Linked DNA regions of Homo sapiens. The protein of the gene in region 1 purifies or fractionates together with the protein of each later gene. This does not show direct contact. Each region holds a gene or a part of one and is shown in the gene's direction. Other genes may lie near its edges.

What was found. Proteins that work in one complex are often made in the same cells at the same time.
Region 2: the proteins of RSPRY1 (region 1) and DYNLT4 purify together in Homo sapiens (co-immunoprecipitation; one large-scale study listed by IntAct). This does not show direct contact.

The regions. Positions count from the first base shown.
Region 1 is NC_000016.10:57,203,329-57,206,828, forward strand, and holds part of RSPRY1 (RING finger and SPRY domain-containing protein 1 isoform 1 precursor), read left to right. Parts: intron 1-1,175; 5' UTR 1,176-1,330; coding exon 1,331-1,680; coding exon of another isoform or gene 1,681-1,684; exon of another isoform or gene 1,685-2,053; intron 2,054-3,500.
Region 2 is NC_000001.11:44,805,393-44,808,740, reverse strand, and holds DYNLT4 (dynein light chain Tctex-type 4), read left to right. Parts: upstream 1-1,389; 5' UTR 1,390-1,416; exon of another isoform or gene 1,417-1,902; 5' UTR 1,903-1,957; exon of another isoform or gene 1,958-2,061; 5' UTR 2,062-2,072; coding exon 2,073-2,738; 3' UTR 2,739-2,848; downstream 2,849-3,348. Other genes in the region: serine/threonine-protein kinase PLK3, read right to left, coding at 3,063-3,254.

The DNA.
Region 1 (3,500 bases):
GAGTAATATTTCTCTTCTAATTCCACTGAATTATAAATTTTGTTTATATTATTCCTGGTCAGTGCTCAAGGTATGAGGAATTAATTGTAACTAGCCAGATGTTGTGTAGAGACTACACACTAGCATAGTCTATTCCTTATGTGGCCTGTTCTCCAGCTGTCAGCCTGTTTTGTTTGTTTGTTTGTTTTTTTACTTTTTGCTACCAGCCCATGTAAGTCTCCTATTTCTAAATCTTTACTTCCTTCCAGAATCTAACCAGATTTTACCAGCTTCTTGAAGAGCTGGTTCTTTCATTAGGTTTTTAATGATAAACATACTTTGTGGGATGAGAATGGCCATCCATGAATTCCTGGAGGGCAGGAACTATTCCTTACTCATCTTTATTCTCCTAGTCCAGCGTGGTACCTGGCACAAGGTCCTTAGTCAGTATTTTCAGGCAAAGATAAATTGGTGCATCTTATTCTGAACTTTGTAATAGACATGTGCAACAAACTGATCATTGTGAAAATACAACTTTTGTGATATCAGTTTTCCTTTCCCAAAACAAAGCCTTGCTTACATAACAGAAACACTTTGCAACAACTTGTATGAATTCTGTCAGTTCTTGAGTGAGCTTCCAATGGGAAACTCTATCCTTTTATTCTCCTTGATATCAAATGGTGCTATCATATTTGTATCATAACTTTTTTTTAACAACAAACGTCTGTAATTATTTTATTTAAAACTTGTTAAATTATCCTATGGGTTTAAAGAAAGGAGTTAATTCATTTTTTTAAAGATTTTTCTCTTTTTAACACCTACCTCTTACACAGAAAGACAACTCTTTTTTTATGATAAAAGGAGCCCTTGAAAAAAAATGCACACATCCTTCTAATGTATTTCTATATAGACAGGAAAAACTATACATGTGGTTTTAAAAAAATCAATGATAACTCCTCTGGTCTATAAGAATATGGTTTGGCAATCAACTTTGTAACAGAATGATAAAAAGAAATTATTGATTGATTGCGAATTCTGTTATCCAAAGCTATCTCTTTGTATTGGAAACCTATAAAAATAACCAAAGATAATTCTTCATTAGAATCCTAATATCTATAAAATCAGACTAGGAAAATTTGAGTAATTAAGTGGTCAAGAATCTTTTATTCATTTTCCTTTTTCTCATTTTCTTTTAGAACTGCCATTGGATGTCCAGAATCCCCTGTAGTTGATAATGTTGGGAATAAGCTCTGCAACTTTCTTTGGCATTCAGTTGTTAAAAACAAATAGGATGCAAATTCCTCAACTCCAGGTTATGAAAACAGTACTTGGAAAACTGAAAACTACCTAAATGATCGTCTTTGGTTGGGCCGTGTTCTTAGCGAGCAGAAGCCTTGGCCAGGGTCTGTTGTTGACTCTCGAAGAGCACATAGCCCACTTCCTAGGGACTGGAGGTGCCGCTACTACCATGGGTAATTCCTGTATCTGCCGAGATGACAGTGGAACAGATGACAGTGTTGACACCCAACAGCAACAGGCCGAGAACAGTGCAGTACCCACTGCTGACACAAGGAGCCAACCACGGGACCCTGTTCGGCCACCAAGGAGGGGCCGAGGACCTCATGAGCCAAGGAGAAAGAAACAAAATGTGGATGGGCTAGTGTTGGACACACTGGCAGTAATACGGACTCTTGTAGATAAGTAAGTATCTGACTCACGGTCACCTCCAGTGGAATGAAAAGTGTTCTGCCCGGAACCATGACTTTAGGACTCCTTCAGTTCCTTTAGGACATACTCGCCAAGCCTTGTGCTCACAGGGCAAAGGAGAATATTTTAATGCTCCGCTGATGGCAGAGTAAATGATAAGATTTGATGTTTTTGCTTGCTGTCATCTACTTTGTCTGGAAATGTCTAAATGTTTCTGTAGCAGAAAACACGATAAAGCTATGATCTTTATTAGAGAATAGAGTAAATATGGAGTGAGTTTATGTTGCTAGCTACAATAGGAAATGGTTTCATGAAGGCTCACTGTTAATGGTACATGCCTGTCTATTCCACTGACCTCAGATTCAAGGTAAGTTGTTTTACCAAGAACATGGCTACAGGCAACTTCTCTTGGCAACATAAGGACTAAGGTCAAGGAGAGTTTTCATTATCCTTTATTTGATCCTTTATCCCTTATTTGACTATCTTTAATCCATTTAGGAAGCTTGTCAGTTGATACTGCAAGGCACACCTGTACCTGTTTTGTCTTTTCCTCTGCTTTGTCTACCTCTAAATACAAAATCATAGATTGAATAACAGTGAAATTAAAGGGCATCCAAGTAGAAAAAAACATTTAACTTAAGGTTGTATATTTCAGTAGTTAAGAGCACAAAGCTTAGAACCATGATGGGCCTAGCTCAAGTTCTGGCCCAGTGCCTTACTAACTGCATGACATTGGGTAAGTTACTTCTTGAAGCCTCAGATTCCTCATCTGTAAATGGGGGGATAATATTGTTCCCACAAGGATTATCATGAGATAATGTACATAAGGCATTCAGTGTGGAGCTTTGTACTTAACAGTTGCTCAGTAGATGGTAGTATTTTTTAAAAAGTTACTTATGTGTTCTTTTTGCTTCAGGCCCTGCTAGTAAATTTAAGTATATAAACATTTGATAATCGCATTTATAGAAACCCAGTTTCGTTTAGTTCCTCAAAAATTAAGCATAAAACAGAGTGTACCTGTGAATACAAACGAATTTTTAGAGCTGTATTAAACTTTTCCATAAAATACTGGAGCATTTGTTAGTCTTCGAGAAGAATAATTTTTTGGCCAGACACAATGGCTCATACCTGTAATTCCAACACTTTTGAGAGGCTGAGGTAGAAAGATAGCTGGAGGCCAGGAGTTCAAGACCAGCCTAGGCAACATAGGGAGATCCCATCTCTGCAAAAAAAATTTAAAAATTATCCAGGTACAGTGGCACTTGCCTGTGATCCCAGCTACTCAGGATTCTAAGACCGGAGTACTGCTAGAGTCCAGGAGTTTCCAGCTGCAGTGAGCTATGATCACACCACTGCACTCCAGCCTGGGCAATAGAGCAAGACCCTGTCTCAAAAATTAATTAATCAAAAAAAATTTTTTAAATCCCTTGTACCAAATTGTAATAAAAGTTATCCTTCCCAAATAAGGAAGTAAACCACAAACAATGTTAATTTAAGCTCATTGGAAAAATGGGTGCAGAATAGACTTTGAGAGAGAGAGTTTTTTTGTTTTGTTTTGTTTTTAAAGAGACAGGGTCTCACTTTGTCACCCAGGCTGGCGTACAGTGGCGTGATCATGACTCACTGCAGCCTCAGCCTCCTGGACTCAAACCATCCTCCCACCTCAGCCTCCTAAGTAGCTTGGACTACAGGCGTGTGCTACTGCACCTGGCTAATTTTTAAAAAAGTTTTTGTAGAGCCAGGTCTTGCCATGTTGCCCAGGCTGGTCTCAAATACCTGGACTCAAGCGATTGTCGAGCTTCAGCCTCCTTAAG
Region 2 (3,348 bases), on another chromosome or scaffold:
AGAGGGAGAAGCAGGGACTTGGGAGGCCTGTTTGCTGAGAAGCTGAAGTTTAGGAGTGGAGCAGGAGAGGCCCAAGCTCCTGAAGGCATCAGAGGCCAGAGGCTCGGGGACAGGAACAGACACAGGGAGGGGGCCAGGAGAAGCTGAGGCTGGAGTGGCCTATGGTCCTGGGAAGAAGCTGGCTGGCTGGCGGCGGCGGCGGCGGCGAAAGAGGCCCTGGCTGGGAGTCTGCCCAGGCAGCCGACGGGGTGGGAAGCCTGTGGGTTTCCATGGAAACTGGAGCTGGCCTGAGAAGAGACTCCACCCATCTCCCGGGCAGGCCCAGGGAAAACTTCAGCCCTTAGAGGGGCATTAAGCGCCATACGAGGGTCTTAGCCCCCGAAGCTGAGCCTGCCCTAGGTTCAGAGTTCAAACTCCTTGCCCTCCTAACCCTTCCCTCCTCCACAGGCACACAGGGTCAGGATCCGGTTAGCCAGGCCGGGGAAACCCCCACTCAACAGGGAAAATCCTCGCCCCCATAGATGGGTCAGGGCCCCGACCTGGCTTGTTTGGGAGGGGACAGTCCCATCCCTGCCAGAGGAGGAGTCACATGAGTTGTCAGCCCTGGCAGAGGTGTCACAGCCTCTGCCATCTCTGAAATGTAACTTTGGGGAAACCTAGGTACTAGAGGTGTAGCCAGCTAGGGACAAGCCCCAGGACACTTGGGTCAGCAAAGGTCACGAGGCTGGACTCGGGGTTCACTGCCGAGTCACTGCCACTTTATAAGGCCTGGTGCCTACCAGCTGAGCCAGTGGGCCTCCCCTCCCCCGCACATAGCCCTGAACTGAGGAAGTCATCCAAGCCCCACCCTAACTCTGCGCCGGGAGCGGAAATGTTTGTCCTTGTCGAGGCCGATGGGGAGACAACAGAGCCATGACGTGTTCCTTCCTGTGGGCCCAGACTCTGGATTCCTGAGCCACCACCCCCGCAGCCTCAAGATCTCCCCCTAACCTAGGCCTCTGTGACTTGTTCACGAATGGCCAGTCATCTGGCCATTCCACAAGGGGAGAAAATGGGCCCTGGCTCAAGAGTCCTGGGGTAGGACAAAGCCTTTCTGACCACAGCCTTGCTCTACATCTGCCCCTCTGTTGCCTGCGCTTAGGAAGTTTGCCTCTAAGCTGCAAGACCCTGTCGGCCGCTCTCCCTGATGACTCAGGGGCACCCCATGCTCAGCACATGCTCACAGCAACAATGCTCTCAGGTTAAGCCAGAGCCAGACTGGAGGGAGGGATCCTGGGAGGGAGGAGTGTTTGCTCTAGCAACCCATGGCAACTCCACAACACAGGTCTTTCCCCTCCCACTTGCCCTTCAGGCCAGCGGGGCCAGGGCTGTGCAGCCAGGACAGAACTCAGAAGCCAAAGCCTGCGGGTGACTCAGGTGCCTGAGGGAGTTTCGGGAGCAGAGGGCAGCCATCTCAGAACTGATTCTGGAGGAAGTGGGATCAGAGGCCAAAGGCAGAAGGTGGAAGGGGGCTTCATGAGTCATCTGCCCTCAGCCTGGGCCAGGTGTAGGGGAGATCTTTGTGCCAGCCACCCTAGAGTAGATCTGGGTGGAAGATGACTGGATTCAACACCCCCAGGGCTGGAAGGATCTGTGGGGTTGAAGGAGCTGAGTCTGTCAGTCCTTCCTGGTTAGGGGTTGGAGGCTCTGCCTCCACAGTCCAGGCTGAGGCAGAGGCCTGCCTCTCCTTCCAGAGAAGTCGGGTGGAAGGGAGAAATGGCAGTCTCTAAGACTCCGAGCGTACCTGGCTAACTTCCATAGTGCCCAGAGAAGGAGCTCAGTCGGCAAGGACTAGCCGAGGATCCCAGTCCTAGCAGCCTCCTGTCCCCTGCTCATGTGTCTAACAGCCTTTAACCTTCTCAGCACCTAGGAACCCAGGCAGCCTGGGACTATCTGATCCACTTGTTCTAAAACACAGGTAAGAAGGGGGTAGAAGGTAAAAACCCTTGACATCACTGAGCAAGAGGCTGGGGTGGGTAGACAGATGCCTGGTGAAGGCCACCCTGAGTGTGGTTCCTCCAGCCAGCAGGTCCATGGCCAGCAGGCCTCTGCCCCCGGGACGCCAGGAGGAGGAGAATGCCAAAGACTCCGGGCGGAAACCCTCACCGGTGCGGCCCCGAGGCTGCCTGCCCAGCATTGATGAGGCCCGACCGGCAGGTCCAGGTCCAGCCCCGGCCTCGCGCCGGGGCTCCATGCTGGGCCTGGCCGCGTCCTTCTCCCGCCGCAACTCGCTGGTCGGGCCAGGCGCGGGTCCTGGGGGTCAGCGGCCATCCCTGGGCCCGGTGCCCCCTCTGGGCTCAAGGGTCAGCTTCTCAGGGTTGCCCCTGGCGCCCGCCCGTTGGGTGGCGCCCTCCTACCGCACGGAGCCAGTGCCCGGGGAGCGCTGGGAGGCTGCGCGTGCACAGCGTGCCCTGGAGGCGGCGCTGGCCGCAGGGCTGCACGACGCGTGCTACTCCAGCGACGAGGCCGCGCGGCTGGTGCGGGAGCTCTGCGAGCAGGTGCACGTTCGCCTGCGCGAGCTCAGCCCGCCACGCTACAAGCTGGTATGCAGTGTGGTGCTGGGGCCGCGCGCGGGCCAGGGCGTTCACGTGGTCAGCCGTGCGCTCTGGGACGTGGCGCGCGATGGGCTGGCCTCGGTCTCCTACACCAACACCTCGCTCTTCGCGGTGGCCACGGTCCACGGGCTCTACTGCGAGTGAGGGGGAGTCCAATTCTGCAAAATTGTTTATTATCCTAGGAGGAGGCCCCCCTGGGGCTCACATCCCAATAAATAAGTGTCTGACAATAAATAAAAGTGGTCCATAAATAACGCCCCCTAGCTGGGAGCTAAGGCTCAGGCTTATCTTGGAGATGGGGTAGGAGCCAGCGAAGACAAGCCGCCCCCAACTCCAGTAAAGCTGGTCCCTGATTCCCTGGGGGATTCGGCCCAAAGCCCCCAGTGAGGCACCAAAGGAAGGGGGAAGGCCACAAAGGCAAGGGCCAGAGCCTGACAGGCACAGGCCTCAGGCCTCAGGGCTTGGGTCCTAGGCTGGGCTGCGGTCCCGGAGCAGGCGCAGAGCATAGCGGAGTCGCTGCCGCAGGTCTGGAGAGCAGCCCAGCTGCCGAAGGTGGGAAGCGAGGTAAGTACAAGCACTACGATTTCGGGCCACAAAAGTCACAAGGAGGGGCTCCCAGCCACTGAGAATCAGCTTGGTGTGGTCCCCGTAGAAGTTCACCTGCACACAGAGCATGACAGTGGTCAGGACCTAGGCTCCGGGCCCAGCTTCCTCCCCAGCACCCTGGGCCTCCCAGACCTTCCCGCAACTCCTG